Linked DNA regions of Homo sapiens: regions 2 and 3 are each linked to region 1. Evidence: fine-mapped expression QTL. A gene starts in region 1. Each other region holds a variant in brackets. All regions are shown on one strand. Distances are from middle to middle. Region 1 holds the start of TPO (thyroid peroxidase). Region 2 has its middle 39 kb from the start of TPO. Region 3 overlaps TPO (thyroid peroxidase).

Evidence for each region. PIP is the estimated chance that this variant, and not a neighbour inherited with it, causes the effect.
Region 2: its variant is fine-mapped to the expression of TPO in tibial nerve (GTEx, PIP 0.99).
Region 3: its variant is fine-mapped to the expression of TPO in visceral fat (GTEx, PIP 0.92).

The regions. Positions count from the first base shown.
Region 1 is chr2:1,409,153-1,415,443 of GRCh38, forward strand. It overlaps TPO (thyroid peroxidase), which reads left to right and starts at 4,311. Exons shown (of 17, transcript NM_001206744.2): 1 at 4,311-4,393; 2 at 5,256-5,350. The coding sequence starts at 5,257.
Region 2 is chr2:1,371,549-1,377,839 of GRCh38, forward strand. It overlaps a transcript of TPO not described here. Among named protein-coding and RNA genes, the nearest start is that of TPO, 39 kb to the right of the region's middle. The variant A/G (reference allele first, on the strand shown) is at 2,615.
Region 3 is chr2:1,459,577-1,464,576 of GRCh38, forward strand. The region is part of intron 7 of TPO (thyroid peroxidase); the gene reads left to right. Among named protein-coding and RNA genes, the nearest start is that of TPO, 49 kb to the left of the region's middle. The variant C/T (reference allele first, on the strand shown) is at 2,635.

The DNA of each region.
Region 1 (6,291 bases):
GAGAGGAGCCTCGCACGGGGACGTGACTGCTGTCCCCAGATTCCAGACTCCTACCTCCTACTCAGAAAAACTGGAGCCATTAAAATGGTTACTGCTGAATGTGGAGCTTTTTGTGGTGTGAGAGAGCCCCATGTTTATTTCCTGAATTTCAATTAACAAAAACCCTCCTGTATTTGTCTTTAGTTTTATCTGACTCATATAAACTGGGAAATTACCTACCTGAGTTTGAACAAAGCTGAATAATTTTTCAAATTTTACAGGGGAATTTAATTAAGTTTGAATGACAGCATTTTATTTTCCAAATTTGTTTTAAAATGAATTGAGCTGTAATAAGAGTTGGAAGATAACACAGAGCTCCCAAACCTCCTTCACCCACCTGCTCAGTGTTAACTCTATGCACGGCCACAGCACAGCAACCAGGACCAGGGAGTGGACGTGGATCCAATGCTGGTGATTACATCTCAGAGCTCACCCTGGTATCCCCAGCTTTTCCATCTGCATCCTTTCCTCTTCCAGGATCCAGTCCTGGCACTGTGCAGCCCACGGCCGTCGGGGGTCATCAGGTCCCTGAGTCTCCTCTCATCCATGTTCATCTCTTAAAAAATAAACTTACAAATTTAAAAATACAAAAAACAGTGCGCGCACACACACACACACATGCACGTGCACATACACACACAAGCCAGGCACCAAAAGACAAACACCTCATGATCTCCCTCCTATATGGAATCTAAAAGTGTCGAGCTCATGGAAGCAGAGAGTGGATGGTGGACACCTAGGGTTACGGGGCAGGTGCGGTGGGGGGCAGGTGTGGTGGGGGCTGGTGCCATGGGGGGGACAGGTGCCGTGAGGGGCAGAAAGATGCTGGTCAAAAGTGAGGGTTTCAGTTGCAGGATAAAAATGTTCTGGGATCTAATGTATAGCTTGATGACTATTGTTTATTTGAAAATCGCTAGGAGAATAGATATTAAATGTTCCTATCACACACACAAAAGGATGAATACGTGAGGTGCTGTATATGTTAATTAGCTTGATTTAATCACCCCACAGTGTTTACATGTATGAAAACATCATGTGAACATAAATATGTATAATTTGTATTTGTTAATGATAGCTTGATGAAGCTGGGGGCGAGGAAAACAAAAACTAAAAAGTGAATGGCAAGTAAAAAAGGCAACATCAGGCTGTAGTTTGAAGAACACAAGGCAGTCAGGCCCTGGCCACATGTCAGGTGAGTCAAGTGTGAGCCCACCCTGGATCCCTTTTCTGTTACAGTCACAGGCAAGGGCCTATTACAGGTGGTCCTGGGCCTCGGTTAGGGAGAGCCTCTTGTCTGTGGACAGAACACACGATGTCTGCAGGGAGAAAGGTGGCCTTTCTATGGAGACATCAAGCAAAATGTGTGATTTGCTGTTTCTCATGCATTGATCAAGGTATTCAGTAATCAGATTTCCCCAGGATATCAAATAGTTCATTGGCACTTGCCAAAAAATGGAAGCGTGCTTGTCTTCTCGGTGGGCCCGGGACTGGACCGCAGGGCTGGTGCCACTCCTTCACTGAGACCTGCTTGTAGCAGGGCCCTGCATTCCCCCATCCTGCCATGTGTGAGTTGGCTTCTTACTGTATCATGCGTTCCTTGCAGATTTCTGTCTTCTTTGGAGCTCCTTGATTTTTCTCATAATGGGAGAAGACGTGTATTTTTTTCTTTCCTTCTCATGGCTAAAACTGTCCTCTTTCTCACTGAGTCTCCCCTGCAATCTCTCTGCTCTCCATTGCTGGGTGGCCACGTCTTCCCAATGCTCCTTTCTGACAGAGACTGGGGGCTTCAGCCAGATCTTTAGTTGCCTCTCTTTCATTCTCCCATTATGTGATAGCCTCGGGTTTTCCACGTCCCCCTGCAGAAATCTTCCTTCCCAAGTCCCCCGTCTTCTTTCTCAAAAATGTGTGTGCTATCCAGTGGGCCTCCTGCAAACCCGCCATTCTCAGACTTTTCTCCGCTCCCCTCTCAACATTTCCAGTGTAACAGCTTCCATTGTACTTGATGCATTATTTATATTGTTTAATTAGTATTAAAATAAGCACATCATGTAATCCAGCTAAAATATGTATTTTCAAATGATAGATACATTTCTCATATTTGTGCGGGGTCAAATGGTAACAGCAACTTAGAGGAGAGGCTACAAAACGACCTGGAGAGTTGATGTGCCGGCTCGGCCTCCCCCAGCTGTGCATGCAAACCCCCTCTTCCCAGGTCTCCATCGGCACTCGGCATTTTCAAGCGTCCTTCTGTGATGAAAAGAGCATCCAGTCAGTATTTACTTTACATTTTAATGCTTTCTTCTTCAAACTCTTCCTTGAGTATTTGCCCCACGCTGTCTCATTTTACCACCCACCTTTCTGGCTGTGTGAATTTCCTGCGAATGCCTTAACAAAGGGCCACGTGCTTAGTGGCTTTACTCCATCAGCTCCGGAGGTCATAGATCCAAATGAGACTTTTGGCAGCAAGGTCCAGGGACAGGCCTGGTTGTGCCTGGAGACCCCAGAGGCCCTGCTCCTGGCCTCCTCCAGTTTCTGGAGGCTCATGGCCACGGCCCTCCAGTCTCAGTTTCCATCATCACTTCCCCCTTTCTCCCCTCAGACTTTCCCACCTTTGTCTTGTAAGGAGCTGTGTGCTAACACTAAGGCCAGTGGATAATCCAGGCTAATCTCCCCTCCTCAAAATCTTAACTGAATCCCATCTGCAAAGCCCCTTTTGCCATGCAGGTTGCAGTCACAGGCTGGGGGACTGTGTCCCCTAGACGCTGGTGCTCTGAGCTACTCTTGAGGTCTTTTCCATCCACATTCTCCCAAGAAGAATCCCATTCACTCACAGTCCACTACTGTATCCCCCCTCAGGACTCCCAAATGTGTCTTTTTAAGCTGGACTTCACCCAACAGCTGAAAGTACATTTCCAAATGCCCAAGAGCTCACTGCCCGCCTGTGCCACGGGCACCTCCAACACAATTCCAAGCCTGAGTCTGCTGCTCCTTTGCTTGTCACAGCCAGTCTCCTTTCTTCTCTGGCCTTCCTAGGGCCAGTACATGAGATTTTCACTTGCTTAGGCATCAAACCGAGGATGGCTGAATCCTCAGAGGCTCTGTGCTTTTCTTCTGTTCCCAACAGTAACTCATCATTGAGCCATGGAATCCTCTTTAATGAGCCACCGAGTCTGGTCCTTCCTCTCTATCCAAACCCCACCCTCCTAGTGACCATTCTCAGGGTGCGTGGGGGGATTATATCACTGTTGGCTGATCTCCTCCCTGCTCTTCAGAGCTTGTCTAACTCATTTGTTATCTTCACCCATTTGAGGGGTGAGTGATGAGGATTGAGGGGAGAATGTTAAAGGCAAATCATCACATTCTTGGGCTTCAGAACATCTTCTAACAAAGATTAATGTTCTGAAGCCTTTGCATCGTGTTTTAGCATTTGGTTTCAAATTACCTAGAGGAAGCATCAGTCACATTTGGAGAAGGGAAAGAAAAGGAGAAAGATGAAGATGATTTTCACAAACTAGAAACCCATAGGACTTCCGGGGGCATGAAGAGGCTCCAAGTCTCAGGAGCAGGTCATTGAAGATGTGTTATTTTATCATTTTCATGATGAGATACAGCCTGAAAGCAGATCACCCATGAAAACATGTCATCTCCCAGTGTTCGGAATGCAGTCATGGTGACCTTCCTACAGAACATCTCTGTCTTTGTGGGGACTCTTTTGATGGGTGCATGATGAGGATTGAGGGGAGAATGCATGCTGGTGAACACACACTGAACTGTGCTCATTTTTCACCTCAACAAATTGGAAAAAAGTGTACTTTATTCACCTCTTAGTGATAAGAAAACTAGGGGCTTGGGGACAGGAAGCAAAAGGCTCAGAGTTGTAGAGCGAGTCATCGGTGGGCCTGGGAGCTGCACCCAACCCAATCCTCGGAAGATTAACAGCCCCTTTTTCACAGGGTATTTAACTGTGAAAGTAAGAGGGAGGAAAATGCAAGTGTCACAAGTCTGGATTTAGTTGGTTTATTCTTTCTCCCTGTATAATTTTTCCCCTCTTCTTCCTAACTCATTCGGCCAGAGGCTGGACTGCATGTGGACCCCGATGACATGGCACTTTGTTTCTGACCAGTCAGGACACACAAGAGGCCCGGCGCAAACACAACAAAGCCCGCAGACATTCTGTCCCCACGAAGAACGGACGCCACTCGACTTCCTAGCATCTTGACGGGCTATCCAAGCGCGGAGTCAGTTTATAAGGTGGGTAACCAAGTCCCTGGAAGGCAATTAAGGCGCCCATTTCAGAAGAGTTACAGCCGTGAAAATTACTCAGCAGTGCAGTTGGCTGAGAAGAGGAAAAAAGGTCAGGTTGTAAAGCTTTTTATTTTTCCATTTTCTAAGAGAAATTCATCATTGGAACTTGTAAAGTGGCCCAAGAGTGGCTGTAATTTGGGCCATTATAGCAGGTATGGGTGGCGTCTCTCAGCAAAGCTGACTGACTGACTGATGAGTGCTGTTTGCAATGACCTCCGCTGGAACATGTGAGTCCTGTAGGGTCGATTCCTAGATCACCGTCTACTGAGACACATTCCTGTCAGCATGGACTCACTGGTGCTATCCTGCTTAACAAAATTAGTGGCTCAAAAATAGCCACAGAAAGCCTAAGAGAAGAAAACAAGGATTTGAAAGTAGAAATGATGAATTTTGAATCTTCTGTTTTGTCTTAACAACTAGAATTCTAAAATCATTTTATGGACATAAGAATGCTTTAAGAAATTCAATAGGCATTTAGGGGTTTTATTTATCACTTTTATAAAGACTAAATTTCTAATAGTACTCACTTTTTGCCACATAGATGCATTAGGGGAAACAGATTTTTTTCATTCCCAATAATTATTCCCAGTACTGTTACACTATTTGACATTACCAAAAATTTAAATAGGTTATTACTGAGATATATTGGCAACTGGAGCTGCCAACATAAAAACTCTGTTTTTGAATAATGGGGGCCTGGGAGGCCTGCTCAGCGCTGCAGTTTCTGTAACCTCCTGACATGGACGGCGACTCTGGTCTCGCAGACCCCAGGCCTGTGAGGGTCGCTCACTGCGGTAGAGGCTGCGTGGAGTCAGTGGAGGGAGCCCCTCAGCAGGGAGACAAGGACACAGCGGTTCCCATGGCCTTGTCAGTGCTTGATTACATACTCTGTCTCCTTCCGTTAATTTTAGAATGAGAGCGCTCGCTGTGCTGTCTGTCACGCTGGTTATGGCCTGCACAGAAGCCTTCTTCCCCTTCATCTCGAGAGGGAAAGAACTCCTTTGGGGTAAGTAGCAAACACATTGCGGTCTTCTGGCCTTATAAAGTTATTTTTCACACTTACTAAAATAGAGGGCATAATGGTAGCTCCTGAGAGTCACTTTAGGCCCCTGTAGTGTATGCTTTGTTATGCTTAAGAAAAAAAAATTGTAATTCTTGATTTTAGAAGGATTGAAATATGTACATTTCTTTCTTTAAAAAAGAGCTGATTTTCCTTGGATGACACAATAGACAATTTTCACTTTTACCTATTCATATAACTGAAAAAAAAATTCTTTGGGAGTGTTTTTCTTCCTTTGCTACAGAATTATTTTTTATTAAATAACTTCTGTGATGTATTTTCTGGAATCAGTGTGCTACTATGTGAAAACAAGTTAAGAAAGCTACTGAGATGCAGTGGTTAAAATAATCACAGATCAAGCTCTTTGCTTTTCTTTTAATAAAATAAATAAAGTTCCAAACCCTGAGAACAAGTTTCACTGGAGTGAATACTGCAGGGGCATTTGCCTGGACATTTTACCCCATGGACACCGCTGGCCCCGGGAGCAGGTGACACCTCGCTGGGCAGGTCCCTGGGCCTCTGCACACAGTCCCGGGGCCCCTGGAGCAGGTGACACCTCGCCGGGCAGGTCCCTGGGCCTCTGGACACAGTCCCAGGGCCCCTGGAGCAGGTGACACCTCGCCGGGCAGGTCCCTGGGCCTCTGCACACAGTCCCGGGGCCCCTGGAGCAGGTGACACCTCACCGGGCAGGTCCCTGGGCCTCTGGACACAGTCCCGGGGCCCCTGGAGCAGGTGACACCTCACTGGGCAGGTCCCTGGGCCTCTGCACACAGTCCCGGGGCCCCTGGAGCAGGTGACACTTCGCCGGGCAGGTCCCTGGGCCTCTGGACACAGTCTCGGGGCCCCTGGAGCAGGTGACAGCTCACCGGGCAGGTCCCTGGGCCTCT
Region 2 (6,291 bases), 38 kb before region 1:
AGAGATAGACAGGTGGAGGGTACATAACCCCTCCCCCGATGCCCACAATCCCCACAGGTTTCCGACCTGACTTTTAAATACAGTTGTCAGCACACTGGCTGTCAAAACCAGAGGAGCCAAGGCTTGGAAGACTGTTGGCTTAGGAGTTGGGAGAACTCTGTGTCCTTTCTGAGGTGACCACAAGCAAGTTTAAACCCGTGTGAAGAATTTACCATGTTTAACTCTTTTGCTCATATATGGAATAGAAAAAGTCACAATCCCTGTTCTTCACCCCCTCACAACCTCATTATGGGCATCAGGTGAGAAATCTGGGAGGAAGTTCTCAGCAAACCAGGAAAAGTGGGTTTTGAGATTTGAGCCGGTGCCTGCCATCTCTAAGGGTGTCCTTATCCATGCAACCAGGTGCCTCCTGAAGTTATGAATGGAATCTGTGCACACACGCTAGAAAAGCAGCAGGAAGCATTCACAGGCAGCACCATTTCCCTAAGGAAAAGCACTTTCTATCTGTGAAAAAGGCCCCGATAGACGCGGGCTTAGAAACATAAGTTCCTCATTTCAGTGAAGCGCTTGCAAGCACTCCCTATCAGCAAGCTGGAGAAGTACACACAGAAAATGCAGGTTACGGTGGAAAATGAAGACATGCCTGGCACATCGTCAGGAGCATGGCTAAGTCAGAGACCCAGAGGCGGCATATGCTGAAGTACAAAATTAACACTTTGTAAAGCCCTTAACAGGTTAAAACCCTGGGATAAACTAACACAATCGATGTTTTAGAGAAGAAAGTACTATCATTGAATTTTAAAAAAGAAAAGATTCAAGGGGAGCCCGGTCTCCCAAACAGTAGCTGTTGGGAGAAGCATGTGGAACATTTAGGTGAAAGTGTTTTTGATCCATTCAACAAGTATTTGTAGAGCATTAACCCGGGGACCAGGCACTGTGACAGGTGCTGCAGCCACGGCCTTGGGTGGATGGGCAGCTTGGATGGATGGGCAGCTTGGGTGGATGGGCAGCTTGGGTGGATGGGCACCTTGGATGGATGGGCAGCTCACAGGCTGGGATAAGCCATGGCACATAGCTGCTGAAAACGCCGATGTCATTCTGGTGCTCACCGTGAAGGAAGATGGGCAGACAATGGCTTGCCCCTCGCCATGCACCCAGAACCGGTCAGTTCACACAGGAAACGTGGACTTTTGTTCTGGGAGCCATGTTTCAAGAAGGACACTGACACACTGGTTCCCAACAGGTGGTCAGTTTTGTATCAGGTGCTTCCTTTAAAACACAACTCCACAGCACATGTCAGGAACTAGGGTTTTCATAGAGCAGGTAGGAAGCTATCCTGCTGTACACCCCTCTGGACAATCTGTACAAAGTGCACAGTAATTTTGCCACCTTAGCAGAATTTCCATAAACTGGATTATATTATAATGGGTTTTTTGTGTTTTTAATCTTAAAACTCAGAGTCAATACTCTTTCTCACTATTAATAGAGTGTACATATGGGAGTTTGGGTATAAACACGGGATAGAATAAATATAACTGACCTTATACATGTATCCTACACACTATCTCTACTATGTCATTTTTTTCTCTGTGAAACTGTGTGAGTCTGGGTGGGACGTAGCATAAGACGGACTACATGACTCTTCGAAATTCAGGTTACCCCAAATCTTTTCCAACAGGACAATCTTTTTAAAAGCACAGATAGATGAATACCTACTTTGTGCAGGGTATATAATAATGAAATGTCACAGAAAACTCAAACACAGGAAAGTGTGGGTGGCAGTTTTACCATTGTGGGAATGATCCCCCATCCAGGGCACAGCCTCAGCATCTTTTCCTATGCCTTTAACTTCAAAGGTCCATGGACAGTCCAAGCTCCAGGCCCAGAGGTATTACAATACGCAAACTAAAATACAGTTGTTTGTGGTGAAGAAAAAGTTGAAACAGTTTTAAGATGAATATATGTAGCTTCAAAATACTTAAGCCAACTGTAGATGATATTGTAAAAGATAAGCTGCTACCTGAAACCTATCTTGATGGGCCATTTCAGTTTCAGAACTAACATGCTGAGTGTTGTAAACAGCAGTTCTTGCCCCATGGCAGATCTAAAAGTGCCTGTGTCCGTTGGGAAGAAGAACGGTATTTAAAAGCCGTCTGAAATAAGCCTCATGGGAAAACAAGTCCACTGCCGCCCCTCCCACAGTCTCTCCGCTCTCCCTGCATCAGCCAGTGGTTCACACTGAGGACACACAGGTGAATCACGTTGAGAATTCCCAGCAGAACCGTAGTTTTCTCCCCAGCTGGCATCTCAGATCAGCCCCGTGGCTGATTCCATGGTGGGCGGGGAAAAGGGACCTACTTCACAATGACTTCCATCTGGGCCATGAGAGGAAGACTTGCCCCCGGCCAACAAGTATCCGAGAGCTGGAAAGGCCGCGTGAGCAAACAGACAAAACCTGCACTCGCCTCCCTTAAATTGAGGGGAAATCCTGGAGAAACGCCTTGCACACTCAGAAACAAACAAGAGAGATGGTCACGGCGGCCAAGTCTGCAGTTCACCTCTGTGGCCACTTCCCTCTGGATGAAGCCCTCAGCCATGGTCTCCTCTTCACGAG[A/G]TTATAAGGAAAGATAATTCAGATGGAAATCTTTTTTACCCAGCCTGCTGGAAATGCAATGATTGTTGCTACAAGGATTGAAGGCAATGGGCTGGAAACACGCACCCAGCTCAGACCCTGCCTTCGGTCGGTGCCGGAATCCTTCCTTGACCCCAGCCTCACCGTGAGACACCGGGCCCTTCACTCAGAAAGGGCTCCGTCAGTCAGCACCTTGGCGGCCCACTACCCACCGTCCACCTGGTAGGATCTCTGTGTTTTCCTTTTCCTTTTTACTGAACGGGCTGAATTTTTGAGCAAGTTAATCTTTTGTTGTCATACACACAGGGATAATGAGTTTCCCAGCTGTGTTACAAACTTAATAAGTCATAGAAACCGTGGTCACTGTGTTTAATTTCTTCTTTCCAGGACAAGCATGTGTTTGCCCCTTTCGGGTTCTAAGTTTTAACTGACAAAATTTGAAACCATTTCTGCAAAAATGTTAATGAGGATTTATTTGAAAAGAACATCACACCAGAAAACATGAGCCCTGTAATTTATAGAGAAATCTTTTCTTTCTTTCTTTCTTTTTTTTTTTTTTTTTACTGAGATGACGTCTTGCTCTGTCACCCAGGCTGGAGTGCAATGGCTCGATCTCGGCCCACTGTACCCTCCGCCTCCTGGTTCAGGCGATTCTCCTGCCTCAACCTCCCAAGTAGCTGGGACTACAGGCACCCGCCACCACGCCCAGCTAAATTTTTTTTGTATTTTTAGTAGAGACGGGGTTTCACTGTGTTAGCCAGGATGGTCTCGATCTCCTGAACTCGTCATCTACCCACCTTGGCCTCCCAAAGTGTTGGGATTACAGGCATGAACCACTGCACCCGACCATAGATATACCTTTTCAACAGATATTTAAGAATAGAAAAACTGAAAATGTTGATTAAAGAGTTTTTAATTTTTTTTTAAGTTTTTAAAATTTAAAAAGGGAAAAAAAAGCATGAAGAAAATTGCATTAAATTACTTTGACCACGCATTGCTTAGGGCTGAAAAATCATGTTGGTTAGGCAGACGATAGGAGAGATGGGCTCGACTCAGACCTACACTGGCATAGGAAACTGGTGAACTGGGAAACTCACCTTGGTCGTGAAAGGGAGGATTTATTTTGGTTTACAGTATTGTAAGCCAAAAAGTGACCGAAGCAGATCTCAGTCAATTAGAAGTTTATGTTGCTAAGATTGAGAATGTGCCCGGAAAAAACAAACACAAGTCCCAGTGGGACCTGTGACCCGAGCCTTTTCCAAAGAGGGTTTTGGGAACTTTAAAGGGGAAAGAGCGAGCAGGAGGGGAGAAGGAAAAAGAGGGAGGGCAGGCAGTGGGGCACAGTCAGGCATGTGGCCGCAATCTCGTGGGCCTCTGATTAGCGCTAGTGAATCCACGTTTTACACACGATAAGGTAAGCCCTGGAAATCACAGCTGCCTGTTTGGGAATAAAAGGGAGGCAGTTTTGTGTGACGCGGGTCCCAAGCTTAACCTTCCCTGTGGCATCGTGAGTTTGGGGTCTTGAGAGTGTGTTTCCTTCACCGTGTCTACATCGTCCTTATGAAACATGTCCTGAGCACCCTCATTTCCAACCCTGCAGGCATTGCTCAGGCCTCTGATTCTAAACTCTAGTTCTGGTTTTTGGGGAAGCCACCTCCTCACTGCGAATCTCTGATTCCTTTGTTTGAGACACCAGAGGTGGGAAGACAGGAGGATTTTTCTAGTCACGCACAACGAACGTTTCTCTAATGCTATGCATGAGGGAATGACAGTGCTTCATCCAGCACAACGGGTTCCTCTTCAGGGTGCCACGCCCCACACCTGCAGCCCAGCTGCTGCAGGCTGCGTTTGCTGGACATGGGACACCCAGCACGTGCATCGTGGTAATTCCTGTAAATAAAGATGAGCGCGGCACCATCTGTTCCTCCGAGGAGTTAGCAATCTCAGTATTTTCTTCGTAAATCCAAATTATCCATTGTAGAGCTAATGGGTATAAAACCCGCCATCACTGCACTGCCTGCCCCAGGAACCAGGGCCATGCAAATGTCTCGCTCTGAAACTGAGACTCAGAGTGTCTCCTCTGTCTTTATTCCTTTCCAGTGAAAGCTCCCACATGCGTTGATGTGAACTGGATTGACCAGACATTTTGCTCTTTTAAACAATGGTTTAGGGAGGTTCCTAAAAGTTTCTTTGATTTGTTAAATACGTTATGAAGAAACTATTTTGTAGTATTCATAGAGATTCAATTTCCACTTAGCCATTGATCCAAAGTGACATTTTTGCTTGTTATGATGAGCCTTCTGAAGTGAGGCGTGGTCTCAACATCACCCGTGGTGATTACACGGGGCATTCGCGGGAGCACCAGCGTGGGGCTGAGGCTGTTCCTGATGGTGCCCAGGGCAGTGCTGATAGTGGAGGAGAGAGCCTGGTCTGAACAGCACCCCCAGTCCAGTCCACACGGATGAGGCAGGGCAGGAGATTCACCCTCCACCTCCCAGACCCATGACCGAGCACCCTTCACACCACCCCTTTCTCCTGTGAAAGAAAAGTAAAGACACTTAACAAAAAGTGATATTCTCAAACAAAAAGTAATATTCTTTAACAAAAAGTAAAACAACAGAATGATGTTGTTTTAAAAGCTAAACAAATGTAAATAATTCTGGTAGTGAAAGGAAGACCAAATTCATATATCTAAAAAAAGTAAAATTCCCAAGGGCACTGGCAGGATAACAATGATATTAAAAACCAGTGAAGACAGCTTTTGGTCAGGGCTTTACTTAAAAATTACTTTATATTTGGCAAAGACAAAATAGATAATATGGAATTTGGCTAGGGAAAAGGATGTATATTTTATTGGCTCCCACTGGTGAATTTACACCAGAGTCAGAGCTCGGCCACTTAAATAATATTTAATTTTTGTGATAAAAATGTTTTCTCCCTTAATAAACTGTTCCTTTAAAACTGGAATTCAAAGTAAATGCAAAGCAGAAAGAAGCTCCACAGTGTGTCCTTCGGGTAAACCAGTCTTCCTGCTGCCTTTAGATCAGCACCTCTGGTTATTTTTCAGCTTGACTTACACAGAAGAAAGTCGTATGCATTGGAATACGGTCTTTCTCTCACGGATTATTCTGGTAGATTTCAAAAGCCCTACAAGGATAATACAGGGAGCCATGGCCCTTTTGTGATTGCTGTCACAGTTTTATGAAAGGCATTTTCAAAAGTTAGCCTCGAGGAGATTCTGGAGATTTCTGTGCTCTCAGGAAACCCTTACCTCGCCGTGGCTCAGAAGCAGAAGTGAGGAGCCAGGCTTCTCTGTTTATGGAGAGGAATTTTCTGCACCTTCACAAGAGCTCAAAATGAACCCAGACAGAGTCTTTGAAGGACAAGGGCAGGACCCAGGGACCAGGCTGTGAGTCTGCCCTGCCTGGCTGCTTTCGGATCCTGTGTCCTCAGAACCCACCAAATTCATGTCGGTCTTGTCCTCACAGGTTCTCCTGGCCCTGGGTGAGTCACGCTGGGAGAGTTAGCACAGGTGGGGAAATGCAGGCCAGCGGCTGGCAGGGTGAGCTGCAGCCGCCCCTCTGTACCTGGTGCTATGTCTGCTAGTGGATCTTCACCCAGGATGTGCTTCCTCATTCTCGACTTCACCCCCAGCTCCA
Region 3 (5,000 bases), 50 kb after region 1:
AAGGAAGACAGGCTGGTCCCTGGAAGGTGGGCAGGACAGTTACATAAACCAGCAGTTACAAAATTCTGGGCATCTGCAGAGGAGGTCCCAGTGGGCAAAATCAAGACATCTAAACAAAATATCCCAAAAGGAATAATATTGGGGGAAAGGTGGAAAAGGAGCACCATAAAGACTGTGTCAATCATAGAAACTGAATTTCAGCCAGGTCCAGCCTCTGTCCCTGGGAGGAGGTCTCTCTCTCTCACACGCTGGGGCTCAGACCCTGGGAGACAGGGGGCCCCTTGCTCTTCTCTGCAGAGCCCCCTCACCAGGGCGGCCCCCTGCATGTGTTCCCTGCTGCATGTACCTCTAACCTGGGATTCTTTCTTTCTTTTTTTTTTTTTTTGAGCTGGAGTCTTGCCCAGGCTGGAGTGTAGTGGCGCAATCTCAGCTCACTGCAACCTCCGCCTCCCGGATATAAGCGATTCTCCTGCCTCAGCATCCTGAGTAGCTGGGACTACAGGCATGCGCCACCATGCCTGGCTAATTTTTCTATTTTTAATAGAGATGGGGTTTCATCGTGTTGGCCAGGCTGGTCTCAAACTCCTGAACTCAAGTGATCTGCCCACCTTGGCATCCCAAAGTGCTGGGATTACAGGTATGAGCCACTGTGCCTGGCCCTAGTGTTATTCTTCACCACTCAGGACCCCAAAGTTCTCATCTGTTAACATTAGAGCTGTTAGATCTTGCAGAAGTACCTGTATCTTCAGCAATGAACAGTCTGCCAAGCAGAGGCCCTCGTTCCCAGCTAAGTGGCTCCCCAGCAGAATCTGTGCAAAAAAATGACTGAGTTATGCAGCCTGGAGAAGCAGTGGAGATGGGCACCTATTATCTATCAGGTCTTGGGTTCCAGGCTTGCCTTGTAACTTATTATCTGCGTGTATATAGGTTTGTTGTCCATAAAAAGAGTATATTTCCCAGGCTGGCCTTGTAACTTATTAGCTGCATGTATATAGGTTTGTTGTCCATAAAAAGAGTATATTTCCCACCTAATAATGTAGCAATTAGAATGAAATGAGATCGAATTTGCAAAACCAGGCTCAGAGAAGGAATTCAATGAACGTGTATTGTTATTGCTGTGTTGCTGGAAGCGTAGACCTCTGAGAGGGATGTGGGGTGATTAGGGAAGCTCAGCAGGGAGGGAGCACGTTGGGTAGGGAGCTGCACTGAGAGAACTACTCTGTGTGGAGGTTGGGCTCCCCTGGAGCTGCACTGAGAGAACCACTGTGTAGTGGGGTGGGGGCTCCACCTTTGGGCTCCCCTGGAGCTGCACTGAGAGAATCACTGTGCGTGGGGGCTCCACCTTTGGGGATCTCCTGGAGTTTCGCTGGTTTGGGCAAGAGCTGGTGAAAAGCAGCCTTGGAAGAAGGAGGGATTGTTCTTGCAAGTCTGCGGCTGCTATTGGGGTAATTTATGTTTGTCCAGACAGGTGGGACAGTTGGGGGCCACCATCTGGGTGGGAAGGACACGGGTAGCCCTGAGGCCAGACAAGGACCCCAGGAAAAGCCCAGCCCTTCAGGGCCACACACACCGTGGGGGAGGTTGGGGGGCCTCTGGCCAGGGCATCATCCTGGGCACGTTCTGCTGGTATCCAGGGTCACGTGATGGTTGTGGTGAGCCCCACACACCCGCCCCCAGAGGCTCCTTCCTCCACCCACAATACTCAGTTATGTGGATGGCTGCGTTCGTATAAAGATAAATATATTAATGTGGGTTCAAACGTTCTTTGGCCTAAATGTTTATTATTTTCTTCTGATTTTAAAGCAAGTTAAAGATTTTGTGACCACACTTGCTCCTGTGGCCCTAGGCACTGTGGCTATGGTGCCGCCTGGGTAGGCTGGCCCTGGGGAAACTGGACTTCCACCTGCCTCAGGGGAGGAATTGGCCTTTCGTCCTAAGAAAAGTCTCCTCAGAAGAACCCGAGTGGGAGTGAAAAGCAAAAGTGAGTTGGGCCCCAGGGCCCCCTGCCCCACCGGGCATAAATATACCCACAGGCATGCACACACTCACAGGCACAGGTGACCGTGACCGCCCGTACACCTGTGTGCACGCCCTTGTGCACACACACGCACACCCACCCACACCCATACACACACGTGCACACAGGCACACGCACCTATACATGCTCATGACACACAGACCCACACACACACCTGCACACACCTCACATGCACACAGCTGCTCCAGGATCCTTCTGCTGACATGCGGACCCTGTGTAACTCAGGAGTGTATTGGACGAGGGCAGGGGGGGCCGTGGCGAGGAGCAGGATACTGTGATGCCCGTGGAGACCCCCGCAGAGGTTCCGGGGGGTCCGGGCACTGGCTCCTTCGGGGCTCCCTACTGGATCTCAAGGGAAAGGCGGGTGCTCTCATCAGCCATGTCACTCTCCAGTGTCCTCCTTTCTTTTTAGGGCTCAGTTAGAGTGAGCCCGGTCACCCCAGGTACCGTCTCTCTGCCCTATTTCAACTTTCTCTTCTGGCTCTTCTGGGCCAGCCTGTCTTTCGTGGGGCAGGACTGGGGTTGACAGCACTTCCCTTCCACACGGAGCACATGCTTGTGGGACCCTGAAGGCAGAGAGGCTGGGGCAGGTGCTG[C/T]GGGCAGCAGGCGGGGAGGGGCTGGACCATCTCAGGCGGGGAGCCTGCAGGGCTTGTTCCCAGGAGCTGAGGAGCTGACTCCAGACCTCAGGGCTCTGCGCTAAGGTCCCTGGACACAAACTCAGGGCACAGACAAGAGGCAAACCCTCAGGGGACGACTTGAAAATATGGAATCACAAGGAATTGTTATCTTCATTCTATAAAGAGCTCTTATAAAGCAATGAGAAAAAAATAAACACCCAATGGAATAAACACCCGATGTGAACAAGAAAATTACAAGAAAACCCAAATACGTGTGTGTAGGTAAACACACACACACACACACACACACAGATATCAATGAAAGATAAATGAACAGCAAGATGCTGTTTTTAAACATACAGACTGGAAAGAAATTATGAAATTTTAATTTAGTGTTGTTGAGGGTATTGAGAAATCATTTGCATCCATGCATTGCTGTGCAAAAGTAAACTGGTGAATACATTCGGGACACGATGTGACATAAGGTATGAAATGAAATCAGGCCCATTCACAGCACCACAAGAATCTTCCCTAGGGACAATGTCCAAACTGCCCTTAAAAGTGGGTGAATATATTAGTTTGTCACGATTGTTTATATCACCAAAATACTGAAAAACTTTAAACGTTGATCACAGGCTATGAGCATGAGAAACACAAGCAACTTTAGACAATCATGTTATACAGTGATATTATGGAAATGGTAAAATGTTGCCCAGCTTAGTAAAATTTTAGATGATATTGTACTTGTCACTTTTCTTATTTCAAAATGTTCATTATTGAGCATATATTATCTTTGTACTTAGAGAAAAATAACAATAAAATTATTTGTAAACAATTTTAAAAATAAAAGGCAAGACCACATCTGGCAGGGAGGACACCTGCGTGCCCGTGGGTGAGAACGTGGGAGAGGCCCCAGGGTGGGTCTCCAGGGCACTTTCCAGGGCTCTTGGTGTCAGGCATGAACCTCCTGGCTTGCAGTTAAGAGTGTCCATCAATTATTCAGATCCTGTCCATCCCCAGGGCAGCCTTCAGTAGTTGAGTGATTGAGCTAACAGTCACTCCAGTGAGATGAAAAATATACCGTATACTCTAGGAGTAGCTCCATAAACCCAATAGATGACACATCATAAATCAGTGCTTTTAAATGTTTGATGTCCTTTACACTCAAAGCATCCAGTTTGGTCTCTGAGTATTTACGGTGGAGTGAGAGGGTGGAAGTTCTTAGTGAGCTTGGAGCAAGTTGGGACTTTTGAATCCCAAAGCAAAACAGAAAATGATCCACACAATTTATCATATCTATGTTTATTCAGTTTTCCTAAGAGAAACATGTTTCCAGCAACTACACGAGACTATAAATTAAAGTGTTTTGAGTCTCTGACTACTGATCACTCAGCCCAGGGAGCTGTGAGAGCTTTGCAGCATCCTCTATTTTAGGACTGGGCTTTTCTTCATGACCTTGCTCCTTCTGGTCTCGGCTAAGTGGGGGTGCAGGCAGCCCGATGATGTTCCACTGGGTGCTGCAAACCCCCCATCCACTGCAGAAAATATGTAGCTATGAATGTATCGACAACCTCAAAGCTATGCAAGCCTCCTCATGCACACCAATGTGTATCTCTAGGTACATATTACAAAGTGGAGTTAGTGGGTTATGAATTATGTTCATGTTGGAATTTTTTATTTCCATAAGTTATTGAGAACAGGTGGTGTTTGGTTACATGAGTAAGTTCTTTAGTGGTGATTTGTGAGATTTCGGTGCACCCATCACCCAAGCAGTATACACTGAACACAATTTGTAGCTTTTTATCTCTCACTCCCTTCCCACCCTTTCCCCCTGAGTCCCCAAAGTCCACTGTGTCATTCTTACGCCTTTACATCCCCATAGCTGAGGTGTCACTTATGAGTGAGAACATAAAATGTTTGGTTTTCAATTCTTGAGTTACTTCACTTAGAATAATAGTCTCCAATCTCAACCAGGTCTCTGCAAATGCCATTAATTCACTCCTTTTTATGGCTGAGTAGTATTCCATCGTATATAAAAAATCACAGTTTCTTTATCCACTCATTGATTGATGGGCATTTGGGTTGCTTCCACAGTTTGGCAATTGTGAATTGTGCGGCTATAAACACGGATGTGCCAATGCATTTTTCGTATAATGACTTCTTTTCCTCTGGGTAGATACCCAGGAATGGGATCGCTGGATCAAATAGTAGTTCTACTTTTAGTTCTTTAAGGAATCTCCACGGTGTTTTTCCACAGTGGTTGTACTAATTTACATTCCTACCAGCAGGGTAGAAGTGTTGTTCCCTTTTCACCATATCCACACCAACATCTATTATTCGTTGAT